Linked DNA regions of Homo sapiens: region 1 is linked to region 2. Evidence: fine-mapped expression QTL. Tissue or cell type: cerebellum. Region 2 holds a variant in brackets; the other region holds the start of a gene. All regions are shown on one strand. Distances are from middle to middle.

Region 1 (8,288 bases), 480 kb before region 2:
TTTTCCTCAGAGGATACACCTGTGTTCTGTGTCCTGAACAGGTCATTCCAGTAGTGGCTCGGATGATCTACGAGATGTTTTCTGGTGATTTCACACGATCCTTTGATAGTGGCAGTGTCCGCCTGCAGATCTCAACCCCAGACATCAAGGATAACATCGTTGCTCAGCTGAAGCAGCTGTACCGCATCCTTCAAACCCAGGAGAGCTGGCAGCCCATGCAGCCCACCCCCAGCATGCAACTGCCCCCTGCCCTGCCTCCCCAGTAATTGTGAATGCCATCTTCTTCCTTCTCTTTTTTATAATATTGTACATATGGATTTTTTTATTGTTTAGATTTAACCAGCTTTTAAATCTCTCTTTTCTCTAACAGTGTTAGAAGTTTGTGATTCTCCAAATATGCCTAGATTTAAAGCTGATTTAATTTATGGAAAAATCACCCTTCAGACTTTGCTTTTCTTTTTCAAATCTCCTAATGGTAGTATGATATAGCATAGTAGAAGGAGATTTGGCCTGGGAGTTTGGACACCAAAGTTCTAGCTGCAGCTTTGCTTCCAATGTGACCTTGAACAAGTCCTTTAACCTCTGGGCTTCAGATTTATTGCTTATAAAGTGAAGAGATTGGAGTAGTGCCTGAAATTGCATCCAGCTTTAGAACGGACTCAATGACCTTCTTCTACTTGTACAAGGCTAAACTGCCTGGAACAGAATCCTTCTGCATTGTTCTTGTACCACATTTTTCCTTGGTTTTGTTAAAGTTTCCTCAAGCACTGATTTGTCCAGGATCGAGCTCTGTTTGACCTGTTCTGCTAGTATAGTAAGCTGGCTCCCTGATGGGGGAAGTGAGAGGGAGAGGAGCTGGCTGGCTGGTTGCTTAGAAACTATGCTTGATATCTAAATAGAAATGGGTGCCAAAGTCTGAAAGTCACCCAGCCTGTGGAGTGAAAGCTCACAAATTTGGCTTCTAAAGGGAAGCTGTTGACACAGAAAGCCTAGGGATTCTGTGGAAGAATAGGTTGTCAGGCATTTACCTTATTACCACTCAAATACCAGTGTGTGTGTGTTGGGGGGGCGGCAGGGAGAGGGGGTAGGTGACAGTATGTGACTCAGGTGTTAGCTTTAAGAGGAAAGAGCTCTATTTTTCTTGTTTTCTTCTCTGAGCTAGACTGAGCTGGGGATCTAAGATGTACTTCTCTGACTACAAAAGGGACAGTATCATTTAGATTTTTTGCAGTTGGAAGAAATGGGTTGTTGAGTGTGTTAAGGCTGGGATGAAGAAGGGCTGGGCAGTACTCTTCTGGAAAGGCTCACCTAGCACGAACCTGCTTGTCTCCCTTACTAGTGGAGGTATCTGAGTGTGAACAGTGAAGGTAAAGAGTGGTATAGAACAATGCAGCTGTATCTGTCACAAACTGGTCTTATCTAGAAACATCTGCTGAGTCTCTAACCCTTTCAGCTTTCTCTTCTTTTTTGAGACAGAGTCTTGCTTTGTTGCCCAGGCTGGAGTGCAGTGGCAAGTCACCACTTACTGCAGCTTTAAGCTCCTGGGCTCAAGCAATCGTCCTGCCCCAGCCTCCTGAGTAGTTGGGACAACAGTCGTGCACTATGATGCTTGGCTAATTTTTTTTTTATTTTTGTAGAGATGAGGTCTTGCTATGTTGCCCAGGCTGGTCTTGAACTCCTGGGCTCAAGCAATCTGGGACCTAAATGGCAAATAAGATGCTAATCTGTGGTTGCAAGCCCCAGTCCTCTTGAATAGTGATGCCTATCTGTCTGTGTCGGGACATAGTAAGGAAGCCCATGTCTAGTCTGGTACCTTTAAACCAGGCCATCTCCAACTTTTCAAAATGACTCAAAAGTTGAGCTAGCCTTATTTTAAAAACTAAAAGTTCAAAATCAGTGGTGACATGAGGACTTATTTATTTAAAGTGCTTAAGCCTTGGTTTTAGAGTTTCTAAGAGACCTAGTGGAATTTGCTATTATGAAAAGCATGAAAAGATTAAGAAACCTGGCTAAAGGTCAGGTGCCCAGCTTCGAGGAAAAGTTGGGCTTTTAGGGACCGGGAAGCATTAAAGGCACAGAAACTTTACATTTTGGGGGTCATTTTGTTGAGTAGGTGAAGTGAGGGATTTGGGCTTGATATTTGGCTGCCCCATCTCTACGTGGGAACTCAAAGTTAAAAACCCACTGTAGGTAAATTAGAAGGGCAGCTCTTGAATCTGGGCCAGTCTATATCCCTTCTGTGAAGTGCTAACAGCCAGGCTATCTGTAGCCTGGGTGGGAGCCCAGATAATGTGAGCTGGTAAAGGGTATTGGAAAAGTGCCAAGAAATGCCAAGCTTTTGGTTCGTAACCACTATAAAAAGTTTATGAACATGTCAGAGGAATGGATGAGTGATTTGTGAGGTCTTAACTAGATACCCCGGTTTCTTCCTTGTTTTGGCTTCTTTTCAGAATGCCGGGAGAGTACATGCAGGGATTCCATCTAATCACCCTCAGCACTCTTTCTCTGGTCCTGCTGGATAGATTTAGATTTCCTTTCTTTTTTTAGGGCCTCAGTCTGCTATCTCCTTTGGTGGCTACCACCACTCACTCCCTTGATATCTTCTACTCCCTTGCCTTCACCTTGCTTAAGACTGAGAAGGGAGTTAGATTTTGTCACTAGCTCTTCTTTTTCCTCACTGTGTACCCCACCAAACAAGATTAGTTCAAGTTAAAAAGAACCTACTGGAGGTAAACTGGGAGAGCAAGTGTTGGATCTGGGCTGGTCCCTTTCCCATAAAATTAGGTCCCTGGTTGTATGTTCCCATAGCACCCCATACTTCCTCTCTCAGAATAATCATTTCCCTTGTAATGCTCAGCATCCGCATCCTGCTTGACTGCAAACTTGCTGAAGGTAGGGACTGTTTGTCTTGGACTTCGCTGCCAGTCCTTAGAACAGTGTCTGGGACACAGTGTGTTCTCAAATATTTGTTGCTGGAATAAATGAATGAACTAAATCAGTCTTTTAGGGATTTACTGTTAACCACCATGGGAAAATTAAATAAATGCGGGGAAGGAAAACGTTCTAAAATTAGAAGACTACTTTCTACTCTCAGCTTCTGATTCCCTCTGAGCTAAGAACCAGACAGCCTTAGGCTGGTAACTCCTATAAGCTGGTCCTCCTCCCATGCTGACCCCATCTTTACTGTACAATTCACTTTTCATGGACTGAAGGCACCACCAAGATAGATCCAGGAGTGACAACTCCAGTGTAGGTGTCCACTGTTCCCTTAATCTCTGTCCTGCTCCAAGTATAAATAAATTGGGGCCATTTCCTTAGATATTGGGGTTTTCTCAAGAAATCCTTTCCCTTCGTGGCATGGGTCAAATCGCTGGTAGTTAAAAAGGTGTTAACTCTTACGTGAAATAACACTTTTTCTTTGTAATGACCTGACTGGAAAGCCTCTGTGTCATCACTTCTCATTTCTTATTTGAAATCAGCAAACTGGATTCAGTAGACATGAACTTAAGCCCCATGAAAGTGGGGGTTTTGTCTGTTTTGCTCACTGCAGTACCTCCAGGGCCTAGCAGCATGACTGGCACATATTTGTTCAAAGTGAATACTCACACCTTCACACCCTCCCTAGAGAGCTGTTGTAGGCCTCTCAAATGTAGGATTTAGGGAAGTCAAGTTAAAAAAAATTAAAACGTTTCAGCACCACCCACAGGTGAGGCTATTCTGCAAAATATGTTGTCTTGAGGTATGTTTCGTCTGGACAAAACGTATTTCCACAGACACAAATCAAAGGTGTTTATTAACTGCTGTGTGCCCTGTTTCTGGATTCCCAGTCAAGTGGGACACCAGACGTCATAACACAGGGAGGACGTTCGGCGAAGCAAAATGAGGGCAGCAGCGGGAAACCAGTTTCACCAGGTTCCGCCTTTTCTCGTTTACTTCCGCCCTTCCCAGTTCCTAAGCCGACAGATGGGGCCGCGTTCAGTCTGGCCGGAAAGGGCGGGCCGCACGGTGGCCCAAACTTCCGGCGCGCAGTAAGGCTGCCTAGCTAGTGATTCTAACGCGAGGCGCGCGAGCGGCTGGATGACGTCACGGAATGGGGGGAAAGAGGGCGGCACTCGAGTGGGTGCGCATGCGCAAGAAGGTGCCTGCGGGACTGGAGCAGAGCGGGCTGCGAGGGTCTTCCCAGCGCAGGCGGGTTTTCCAGTGTTACTTGCGGCTGGGCGTGGGGGACTAGCTGCCTTTCTGGCAGCAGGCAGGAAGCCGCAAAAAGTTTCTGAGCCCCCGAACCTGTAGCGGACGTGGAAAAAGAACGTATGTGAGACAGACTTATGCCTCATTTAGCAAATCACTATAACATGCTCTGGTGTGGGGTGTGTGGATCGGAGAAATCTCATCTTCCGAGGGTCCTTGATGTCGGACAGAAAGGGAAGGCGGGGCCAGCAGAAGTTAAAATACTACCCTTCTGCAGTTCTAGTGGATTTCATTCATTCATTTTTATGTGTCAGGGTGAGATGGTTGTTAGTCCACATTCTGGTGTATATTAATCAAATTACTATTCTTATAACTATTCTCTGGCGGGAAGAGTAGGGGAGTTGTCAGTGGAAAGGATACATTTGGAACTTGGAGCTCTGTCCCAGAAGGGCTTTTGGGCGAAATGCTGTGAATTTTGCCAAACACTGCCCCGCCTCCGCCTCTGCCCCAAATTCCCTACGGTTTGAACCAGAGAACGTAATTTGCAACAGGTGAAATTTAGAATAAAAGCCAGAGGGAATATAAATCTAGCTATAAGGCTAGAAAAACACACGAATTTATGATTGAGGGAGACCAAGTCAACCAGAAAAATCAAGCAGCATCGGTGAAACTATCTTGTCTGGGCTGGGTCGCCATTTCAAAGCAGGGAGGGACAGAATAACCTTTGGAAGATACCGCGATTTAACAGGAAGGCTGTTAATAATTCCCTGCTCCTGCTTTGTTTCTAGGCCCCTCCTCAAGTGTCTGGCTGAAAGATGCCACCCAGGGAAGGGAACTCGGGCTAGCTAAGGAGGCCATTCTTGATGTTGCTTCTAGATCTCATGTCATCACCGAGCCCTCAGCTGCTGGTGGCAGCTGCTCAGCAGACCCTTGGCATGGGAAAGAGACGGAGTCCACCCCAAGCCATCTGCCTTCACTTAGCTGGAGAGGTGCTGGCTGTGGCCCGGGGACTGAAGCCAGCTGTGCTCTATGATTGCAACTGTGCAGGGGCATCAGAGCTCCAGAGCTATCTGGAGGAGCTGAAGGGGCTTGGCTTCCTGACTTTTGGACTTCACATCCTTGAGATTGGAGAAAACAGCCTGATTGTCAGTCCTGAGCATGTATGTCAGCACTTGGAGCAGGTGCTGCTTGGTACCATAGCCTTTGTGGATGTTTCCAGCTGCCAGCGTCACCCTTCTGTCTGCTCCCTGGACCAGCTTCAGGACTTGAAGGCCCTCGTGGCTGAGATCATCACACATTTGCAGGGGCTGCAGAGGGACTTATCTCTAGCAGTCTCCTACAGCAGGCTCCATTCCTCAGACTGGAATCTGTGTACTGTATTTGGGATCCTCCTGGGCTATCCTGTTCCCTATACCTTTCACCTGAACCAGGGAGATGACAACTGCTTAGCTCTGACTCCACTACGAGTATTCACTGCCCGGATCTCATGGTTGCTAGGTCAACCCCCAATCCTGCTCTATTCTTTTAGTGTCCCAGAGAGTTTGTTCCCAGGCCTGAGGGACATTCTAAACACCTGGGAGAAGGACCTCAGAACCCGATTTAGGACTCAGAATGACTTTGCTGATCTCAGCATCTCCTCTGAGATAGTCACACTGCCGGCTGTGGCCCTCTGACTTTAACTCTCCTCCCATATAGAAGGTACTCAGTAAATGATCATCTCTAGGTTGGGGATGGCAAATAATCATCTCAACTGCCAATTCCAAGTGTCTTGAATACACTAAGGCACAATGCTGTAGATCAGTTGGCCACAAATGCAAAGGGCATGTAAATAGGTAATGGTGGTGCTAGTAGCAAATTGGTAGATAGTACATACTTGCCATTTCTATACTAGGAAGTCCTCTTAGTGGAGATGTTTTCATTTTCACTGGATAAAAGATAGAAGGAAGGAGATGATAGAGGAAAAGCAGGGTGATGGAAGACAAGCCAAACACTCTTGCATGGTAACCTTGTAAATATACCTGCTCTATGTGGGTGCTGCATGCTAGGAAAGTAGGGCTGGGGGCTTTTCTGCATGTTTATATGCCTCCAACTGAATTTGAGGAGAGTAGACCACCAGTATGCTTAAATATGTGATACTTGTTAATGTAATACACCATTCAGGAATAAACTGAGAGTTCTGAGGAACAATCTGGTCAGGTGAAGTTTATTTACAGTAGGTTAAGAAATTAATAAAAAGTCAGAAATCCTAAGTCAGTTGGAAAACCCAAGCTGTAATGTACCCAAACCTTCTGAGTTTTTCGCTGAGTTGCTTGCTTCTGATTTTCACCCAAGGCAGTTGTCACAAATTATTCAGATCATCAGGTTGTCTTTATTGGCCAGGAACACTGCCAGTGCTGCAGCAATCACCACCATCAGCACTGGGAGCCATCGCCCACATTGCCTCTGTAGGGGGACAGGGAGACAGAAGAAAGTGGCCATGAGTGGATTGGAAAAGATATAGGCAAAAATCTTTCTTCTTCCTACTCTAGCCCAGTGGAAAACGCTGGGTTGGTGGTGGAGAAAAAGCTTTTTACTCTGTCTCCCATTTTGTCACCTGTCTTGGGATAAAACCACTTAACCAATGTTCTCTGGCCCAGGGAGCCGTATCCATCAGGGACCAGATATATAAATACTGATATGAATAATGAAGGGTGGAAAATAACCCAGCAAAATTATATTCTTTCTTTGTATTCCCCAGTACTTTTGTGTCCTTCTGTTCTTGCCACCATGCTTATCATCGGCTAAAAGAACACCCTTTCATACTTTAGCTAAGAGTAAGTCTTTCCTTCTGGCATTGAGAGTTCTGTGAAAGTTGGGCTTTGATGGACGAGCCAGTGTTTTTTTCAATGGTTGCCATAATGTCAGTATAGTATAAACCAAGCACAGTGGGACAGGATGGCCAGTTGTTGGCGTGGGCTGATATATTTTATGTGCAAAACTTGGTTAAAGAAGGAATCGTCCCATCATCCAGGGCTTTATGGGAAGGAGAGACCCTCTTACTCTGGGAGGCAGCTGCTGGCTCTGGTTCAGCTCTTCTCGACAGTGCTGCAGCTTACGCAGGCAGGAGAGATACTCGTCACTGAGGTTGTCTAATTCTGAATGCAGTTCTCTGCACTGGGGAGAACATCACCAAAGTCATCACTGTCACTTCTGTCTAGGACAGAGCCCAGGCAGGGGAGACTGCCCTTTGTAAGTTTCACTCATTTGGAATTTTTACCACCATCTTCCCTTCCCAGCCATTCTCAGGGATTTGAGTTTGTCTTTTGACTGTCTTACATTGTCTGGAATGTGTTCATTTAAATGATTGACAGTAATGCATATTATAGTATTACATTTTATACATTTAAGTTCTTTTATATGACTTTACGTGCAAGTGCTTTGCAAATGAGAGACACCGAAAAATGAAGTTCTTATAGAACAAACGACCTAGAAGTGACCTTAGTACAAGTTTCTTTCCCAGGAGCTAGTTGCATATCAATACTTCTGGGGATGTGTATGTTTGTGAGTATGTACAAAGGAAGAGTTTTACTCTTTAAGAGACATATAAAGACTTAAGATACTCAATGTGGGACGACATATTGAGAAGTTAATATTTTTATTAAATGTGTTTGAGTTTTGGTCGACTTTCTAAAAGGTAATCATTTAATAAAACCTTGAATAGGAGTTGGTATAAATAAGGAAGGGAAAAGATTGACAAGTCAGCCCAAAAGCACAGACACTTTATGTAGGCAAATGAATGTCTGTGGTTATCCACTCACAACTTAAACTTTGAAATCCCTGCTTTTTGACTGCCTCCCAGGTTTCTCTGCTATTTCGCAAATGAGCCCTCACTATCTCAGGTCACCCTCTCACCTCCTTTTCCTTGGCCTGGAGCTGCAAAGTCTTCTTTTGCAGCTGGTCTCTGAGATCCCAGTCTTTCTCCTTCCCTGTACCCTCAGGCTCCACTTCGTTAGGGAAGGACTTTGGACTCCACACGGGCAAAGCCTGATCTAAAAAAGCAGCCAGATTCTTGGTGACAGTGAGGCCCACACCTCTGAGGAAGGGCCCTGAGGGTGAAACCA
Region 2 (8,288 bases):
CCAAATAAGGTGAGCCATGTTAATGACACCTTGGGTTGAAGACACATTTGAGATTACTCTTTTGCTGTCTTGAAATCCTAAAATCAGGTTACCCTGAATCCATGATGCTTTTCCTAAACTGGAATATTGTAGAAGTTAAATATTCCAAGTGGAAATGGGGATGGAGTCTTCAATTGTGAAGCATTTTATCAAACTGATGTGATTATAGTGTTTTTTACATGAGAACTATCTTCTCCAACAAGTGAAATATCATGACCTGGCATCACCCTACCCTTTCCAAATAGCAGGCAGACAGTTTAGAGCAACGAAAAACAGTGTAAGTGCCCCAAGCACTTTAGGAGCTGAAATAATCACAACTTTCCTCTTGCAACAATGCCTACTGGTTAGAGATTCACAAGACTTTTCACTGTCTTTGTACTTCACTGTTTGTGGGAGGGGTAGATGAAAAGAAAAAAAGAAAGGGGAGAGGCAGGAATGTAGCCCAAGATCTCAGGAGGAGGGAGCCTTTAGCTGGAGCCTCCCTCTTTTTCTCCCAAGAGGATGATATCAGGATAGTAAATTACCAACCCTGGGGAATCAGCTTGTCCCTTTAAGGCTATTAAAGGGACCAAGATGAGCTGGATTCCTAAATGAGCTTTGAGGATTACTCTGCCAGGTGGAAGGTGACTGACCATGGGGGAAAGAGAAATTGGCTCCCAGTATATCATTTTTGAGCTGTCCAACGGTAATCCCCACACTGATTTAAGCAGGAGGCATTTGAGATAGTAATGGACAATTGCCTCTTGCTTTTCTCTGATAACAGCAGGTGCTCTCAGCAGCAGCAGCTTATCCTAGGTATGGAGAATGTGAAAGGTGGGAGCCTTGGACAGGACATGAGGATAGAGGAGAGATGTGGATTGGCACTTGGAGGGACGCGGGACAGATTTGGAAATGGCAGGTATCATCTCAGTCCCCAAAGGGAGCTGCCTCTCAGACTGAGTTTTGGGAAGAAAGATCAGGACTGCTCTTGTTCAGCAGAGGGAATATAGCTTCAGGGGCAGATGTCATTCTTCAAAGGCAGGAGCTAATTTTCTCTCTGGATTAAGGAAAAGATTCATGAGGTCAATGGTGTGGGCTGTGCAACCCACTCAGTGGCTGTCCTGGAAACATCAATCAAGTCCAGGCATCCAGTCTTGACCACTGGCAAATATCTATTTTAGATTGACCCCATCCTCACTTGCTGGAGAGAGGAGATGTTATTCAATGTGTCAGGGAACTTACTAAACTGCTAGATGGCAATATTTTAAAGTTAACTTTAAAAAAAGTGTCCTTGGCATATGAGCTCTGAGAGGATATTGGGATCGTTTTTTGACAGGCGAAAAGCCCTAACACAGGCGTTTGGGTAGATGGATGAGTTAGAGGCTTCATGGGCTTTCACCTGGATGATTGTAATGTCCATAATGGTGGTCTCATCCTCTGAAGTCTCCCCACATCAATCTGCTACCCTCCACACTGTTTTCAGTGTGTAATTTCTAAAAAGGCATTAAAACAAAACAAAACAAAACAAAAAAACCCTTTGCTTAAAAACCTCCAGAGACTCCTGGTTTCTATCATTGATACAGTCTTGGTTCCCCAGCATGCCTATTACTGTATTCATCATCTGATTTCAACATGCTTTTCCAGGCTCATCTCCCATTACTTTTTGCCCCGAATGTCTGCTCCAGCCCCTAGAAACCACACGTTTCCCTGTGGATGTGCTCTTCTCTTTTCTACCTGAGCTTGTTGCTGGTCCCTCTCACTGAAATCTGTCTCCTCCACCATGCTCTGGCAGGGGGATGCCCAAGAACCAGTTCCAATGTCACCTCACTTAAAAGCCTCCTCTGGTAGCTGCCCTTCTGCACACTTCCTGATTAAGGCAGATTTTGTGGTTTCCTCTGCTGTTCTTGCAAATAATTTTTAGTAAATTTCTGCTAGAACACTTGCCCCTGCTGTACAAATTATATTGTAACTTTTTGTTAATATGCCTACCTTCTCCAATGGAACTGGGAGACTATTCTCGTTCACTTTTTTCTTCAGTTTCAGCATCTATTACAGTACCTAGGAGAGGTACTCAGTACATACTGGAAGAGAAAATGAATGAAGGCTTGAATGAATGTAGAAAAGAATAGAGCACAGAAAGAGAGATCTCCAGTGTATAGATAGGAAAGGCCTATATGAGGTTATGTGCTCCCCCGCCCCCAGCCGCTCTCCCCCTTCCAACTTACTGCAGGCAATTTGCACCTAAACTGTCCTTTATTTTTCTGTTCCATCGTGTCTTGTTGCCCTCAATTGCTGTAGTCTGATGTTGACCCTGCATGACAAGCAGATCAACTCCTAATCTGCCAGAGCCCCAGTTTTTCTGGGACATTTGCAAGCTCCTGACAGAACCCGAGGAGAGGAAAACTGTCAGCCCTCACTTGTCAGTTCTTGGAGCAGCCAGTCCAAGGCTTAATTTGCACCTTGAAATCCCCTGGGGCCACCATGGCTCTGATTGCTGGTTTAGGCCCCTTCAATAGTTTATCTTAGGGGATAAGTAGGATAGAAGGATGGAGGATGAGGACTATCACCACTTTATTGTTGCATCTCCAAAAAGTCGGGATGGAGCAGGGGTGTGGGGATAGGGGTGTAGACAGGGAAATAGAAAATGAGGAATGAATAGACTGGTTTTAAGTTTCACATCAAATTAGAATACTAATGGGGAAATTGAGTTGGGAAACATTAAAAAAACACAAAGATGACTCAGTGTAAACAGCACTGTCTAAAAAGCAGCAAAAGATCCACACAGGGAGAAGCTGCACTTGAGTGATAATAAAGGAGGCAGCTAAAGCAAAGAGATCTCCCCGTCTGCACCAGGTTTCTATCACTTAATCAAAACTGACTCCAGCCACTGCAGCTGCAAAAAAATGTTCCCAATCTTCCACTAATTTCCATACAATAACCCTGTAATGGGGGAGCTGTTCGGGGGAGGAGCGCAATCAATCTGGCCTAATGACACACTGGAGACCTGGGGAAAATGCAAACTTGGAGCAATTTCATGGCAGGTGCAACCTTGGAAAGCATTACCATTTTTCTAAGTTAATTTGTTCCCTTGGTATGTTTGAAATCCATATTTGTACTTTAAAGATCTAAAATGCAAGATGATTAAAAAATATAACCGGATTTTTGTAAGCCTTTCAGCAATAGCGGGTGATATATTTGCTGCCTCCCTCCTTCCTCTCCTCTGTGAGCAGGGATCACTTTGCCTTCTTTTATCCTTTGCTGTCATCTGAGGTGGCTGTAGATTCTCTGTTTTGTTTACTTTTTTTAGGTTTTCCCTTGGCTCCCGCCTTCTGGAACCCTTTTGCACTCTGGGCAGAACCAATCTAGGAAATGGCAGCCAGACCTCTGGGTGGGATTTAGACCCTAGAGGAGGAGGAGCAAAGAAATACCATTCCCGGATTGGTCGTGGGTGGAGAGACTGCAATGTCTTCTCCTTGTTTTGGGCTCTTCCTCCGTGCCCAACTTTTCTTCCCAGACAGGTGAAGAAAGGTCCAGGGAAACAAAAACAAAATCTGGCACTTGGCCCTCATTCAAGAAAT[C/A]GAGAATTCAAGAAACAAGTCCCTTGATTTCTCAGTTTCACTGGCCCTCCCCTGGCCTTGCAGCCTGAAGCTGGCGTCTGGAGGTCATCTAGGCAGAGGCCTAGATGTCCTTGGCAAATCCTTTTCCTCTTAGAACTTGTCCTAGGAAGTAAAAGGAGAAGTACTCTCTGCCCCACTGAAATACACACACATTCTCTCTCTGTCTCTTTTTCTCTCTCTCCCCTTCAAACATCTACTTGGAATAAAATGATCATGTGCAGATTTCTGCTCCCTGGTTTGCCATCTTGCCAAAGGTCTTACAGACTAGCACTGTTTATGGAACATGCAGGTAACTTCCCTGCCTCTCCTCCACTTTAATCTAGGGAACTTTACGTTGAAAGAACCCTTTCTAGATTCTTGCGGATTATTCTTCCCATGCTTCAAGTGGCTTTTCCCATTCCGGAAGCAAGGCACGTGGGGAGCCCTGTGTATATCTCTCATTGGTAGGGCATTCAAACAACCAGAACCTCGTAAGTTCTTCCAGCCTTTGAAATAAGGTATATTTCATTCCATTTAGCCTTAAGGTTTATAAATTAATCCAAAAACTCTCTGAGAAATGCATTTGCCGTCATAATTGAGAATTTGATGATAACTTACTCAAGAATCCAGCTCTAAGGCTCATTGATGGTGCTTAGAGTTCAAGGGTTTCATGCTGCTTAACTCTGTTAAGTGCTCTGGGATGAATTAACACTGGAGAGAAACACAGATCTTTTAGGGCCGGAAGTTAGCAGACAGTCTTTTTTTCTGAACTATCATTAATTAGCTCTTTGGGAGCTTTAATTCCTTGCTCAGAAAGAGGGAATTAACATTCATTCCATACTTAGGAAATATTCTCTTTACTGTCTTGCACTGATGCTATCCCAGCACCTTAGTATAGTAGCTGTGAGAATGCCCCATGCAAACCTCTAACTCCTGGGGGGCATAGTTAACCAAGAGTCCCAGCTGCTGGGCTCTGAGCTGCATTACTGTGCTTATGCCAAGGTCACACCTCCCAGAGGTGGCTCCCGGACAGTGACTGAGGTTGGCAGGGATACTAAGGCAAACCAAACTCTAGGAAATACCGGATTCTTTAGATTTCATCTTGATAATTGCCCTATGGCCCTGCTGTACTGTCCTGAGTCTTCATGGTGATCTAAGACAATTCTACCCAATCTTTCTTCCTGTCTTTTTTCTTTGGAAGTCTCAGACTTGCATGGTAGTCTGATGGCTCTTCGCGTCTCCCCAGCTCCCTTCTTATTTTCTCTTACAGGTATATTCTCCATAAAAGTATTTCACCATGTTTAATCTCAGCTTGGTGTCTGTTTATCAAAGAACTTGGACTAACACGAATAGTCGCAGGCACCAGAGAGACTATGTCTCCTGGAAAATGAGAATTCAATTGGTTATATTCCACTAGGCTTCAGCAGTTCAGATAGAATTATTTATTTTGCATTTAAAGGTAAGGACTACAGTATAAAATAATGCCCAAAAAACCTGTTGAACTCTTAGATTTTTATCTTGGTTTTGGAACCTTCCATCTGTGTGCAGAATTCATTTTATTCTAGAAATGTGTTACCTTTCTACTCCTCACCATGTGATCTGTGTATGGCACTCTAGGTAACAGGAGCTGACATTTATTGTTAAACCTGCTTCTTGAATCCCTCTGAGGGAGACCATAAATGTCTCTGATGTTATTCCATATAGAGACTTAAAATGGCAATGTTATCTATATGTGCAATTATGATTCGTCTATTTCTCTCAAAAGATTACAAGTGCTGGAAAGAGGCTGCAACCTTTTTTTTTTTTTTGGTGAAGTGGGGTGAACAGTGGATTTATACAAGCACTGTAGGGTTATGAAAACATTATCTTGAATAAGCTTCTGGGACTAACTTTATTTATCAGGAACTCTTCCCTGGATCAAGAGTTGAAATAACCTGGACAGATTACAGCAGCTATAGTAGGTCTTCCATCTGGGGCAGTTGGGTATACACAAGCTTTAATGCTATCATTTAATCTTTTTGCAAACCACACATAGCAAAATTTTGATTCACATCCTACTGGAGACACTCAATAATTACTTCTAGCTCCTCAGTCTCTCTTTTAATATTCTTTCATTTCTTACCACTTGCATGAAACAGGAGACACGTAGATATAGCTGTGGGTTCCAATTTTTGTGTTTTTCTTTTCTCCCTTTCCCTGAAAAAAAAAATAAAGACAGGTTTTGTTGGAATGAGTAGTATTTTATTTTATAGCAGAAGCCAGTATTTGATTAGAATATTTAGTCAGAGAAGTTTTATCCATTTATGACATCTTCTATCTTCTGGACAAAACGCTTCTGACATAGCTTACTTTTTTATGAGATGGACAAATTTAAAAACAATTTTTCTTTTTTATTATAGAAGTATTCCATGTTTGATTTCTGCGTTCTAAAGTATTAACCGAAAACAAGATTGTTGGCTCATTCCAAATGAAAAACATGGTAACTGCTGTTCCCTAAATTTATTTATCTAGAGGGCAGGTCTGAGATCCCATGTACTTATTTGTTCTTTCTTTCACAAATATTTGTTTAAATTTTATTCAACCAATGTTTATTGAGTTCCTGCCATATGCTAAGTGCTAGGGGTACTTGAATTAACAAAATGGACAAAATGTCTAGCCTCACTAAACTTATCCCTAGTGGAAGACTCAACAATGAGCAAACAAATATTTTATGGGGTAAAACCAACAATATTTCTGATGAATTAACTGTGGGGATGTTAGACAAAAAAAGAGCCAAGGATGAATGCAGGGAACTTAGCTTGAGCTAAATCTACAAAACAGGAGACCATGGAGGAGAAGCAGGTTTGGTGGCAGGCAGACTGGGACTGGGTCAAGAACTCTGTTTTAGACCCTTTAAGTGTGAGATGCCTATGAGATATCCTGGTGGAGATTTCACGGAGGAAGTTGGATGTATAAGTTAAGTTTATGGTGTAGACTGAAACTGAGAATATGTGTTTGGGATAGTACTTATAGCTTTAGGGCTAGATGAGAATTTCAGGAGTATGTTGATAGGGAAGATAAGCATTATAAAAACTAAACTCAGGGGCTCTCTAAATTCAAGAATCAGGCAGAGGAAACATATGTTATAGGGGGCATGTACCATGTGCCAGGCATTAAGCTAAAGGCTGAAGATACAAAGAAGAGAAGGCATTAACTAAACTCATTGAGGACAGGGAATGTGTTTTATTCTCTTCAGATTCCCAGACCCTAGCACATTACTAGCCACATAAGACTTTATTTAACAACAAAAACATTGAAAGGTGGGACTACACAGAGTCTAGTGATAAACCAGAAATTATAATTAATCCAATTCTGTGCATATGAAATCCTATTAGAAAAAAATAAAGCTCATATTCCAGTGATAGAGGCAAAGAAGGCATTACAACACAGCATGAGTGTTTATCAAATATAATTTTGTTCAAAATGTTTTGGGAGTGTAAGGTAGGGACAGCTATGTCTGCTCTGGGTTATCACCAGAAGAAGTGATGCTTCAAAGGAGAGAATTCTCACCAGGCACACAAAGCTGAGGGAGGGCATTTGTCAGATTATTGAAGTCCAACAATTTTGCTGCACAATTTGGTGTCACTGGTTCCTGGGTAGAGTGAACTTCTCCACTATCAACTCTCTGTATTTTCCAACTTTGACTTTATAATTAATCCATTTTCCATGACAAATATGTTTATCTCTTTAAGAAACTTATTTAAACAAATAAACATCTATTTAATGCCTACCTTACATATTATATTCCTATCTGCCTTCAAGAAGCTTTCAAATAATGGAATGAGAAACAGATGTTAGTAGTCAACTACAAGGCAAGCCAAGATAACGTCCTAAACAGAAGTGCGAAGAGGTGTTGTAGGCATACATCAGAAAGAAGAAATGCTTTTGACCAAGGATCAAGGAAGGCTACAGAGAGGAAATAACAATGAGCTTATTCGTGGGACTATATAAGATAAGGGAGTGGAGTATATTTCAGGTTGAGGAAACAGCATGAGCAGGCATAAATATAATATAATGTTTGGTGTGGGAGAAGCAGTGAAATGTGATGTCAATGACTGGGGGGATGTTCCAGGAGACTGGCTAAAATATTGTTGGCAGAAAAATCAGGAAGGGCTTAGGATACCATGCTGAAGAATTTGGACTTTATAGGCAATGGGGATGCTTTTCTGCAAAGGGAAGAGAACTTTTGGGCAACTCCTCAAATATGAAATCAATGGGAGACAACCCTGAGTAAGGTTGAAATGTTTCTCATGACTAAAAAGTAGAGTGAGAATATTATAGGCTACTTCTACTGGGAAGGGTTTGTATAAACCATAACCATATCTTTTAAAGTCCCATTAGGCCTTGCTTCTAGTCCATTAGTTTGGGAATGTTAGGCTGACATTTTTATTCATGTAACCCCATTGTACTCTCAGATATTCCTGTATCCAAGAGAGATAAGTAAACCCTTAGCCTGATCATAGAACTTCTGAATATATATGGTTAGTTGATGACACATTTCTCTCTCCAGTTACCCAAGCTCCATGAAACAATCATAAAGGAACAAAAGGACAAAGTAATTGGGGGAATATAACAACAATGAACACAGGTAAGTTACATGTTTGTTCACATGTTTCCTTAGAATCTGGAAGATAG

The links. PIP is the estimated chance that this variant, and not a neighbour inherited with it, causes the effect.
Region 1: it holds the start of C1orf74, and the variant in region 2 is fine-mapped to the expression of C1orf74 in cerebellum (GTEx, PIP 0.97).

What each region holds. Positions count from the first base shown.
Region 1 is chr1:209,780,398-209,788,685 of GRCh38, reverse strand. It overlaps C1orf74 (chromosome 1 open reading frame 74), which reads left to right and starts at 4,127. Exons shown (of 2, transcript NM_152485.4): 1 at 4,127-4,308; 2 at 4,977-8,288. The coding sequence starts at 5,052. The coding sequence ends at 5,861. TRAF3IP3 (TRAF3 interacting protein 3) reads right to left here. Exons shown (of 17, transcript NM_025228.4): 15 at 8,080-8,216; 16 at 7,228-7,341; 17 at 6,376-6,630. The coding sequence ends at 6,538. It overlaps IRF6 (interferon regulatory factor 6), which reads left to right. Exons shown (of 9, transcript NM_006147.4): 9 at 42-3,069. The coding sequence ends at 266. RefSeq lists enhancers at 3,189-3,804, 3,989-4,248, 3,805-4,422.
Region 2 is chr1:209,297,953-209,306,240 of GRCh38, reverse strand. No RefSeq gene overlaps it. Among named protein-coding and RNA genes, the nearest start is that of LINC01696, 23 kb to the left of the region's middle. The variant C/A (reference allele first, on the strand shown) is at 3,597.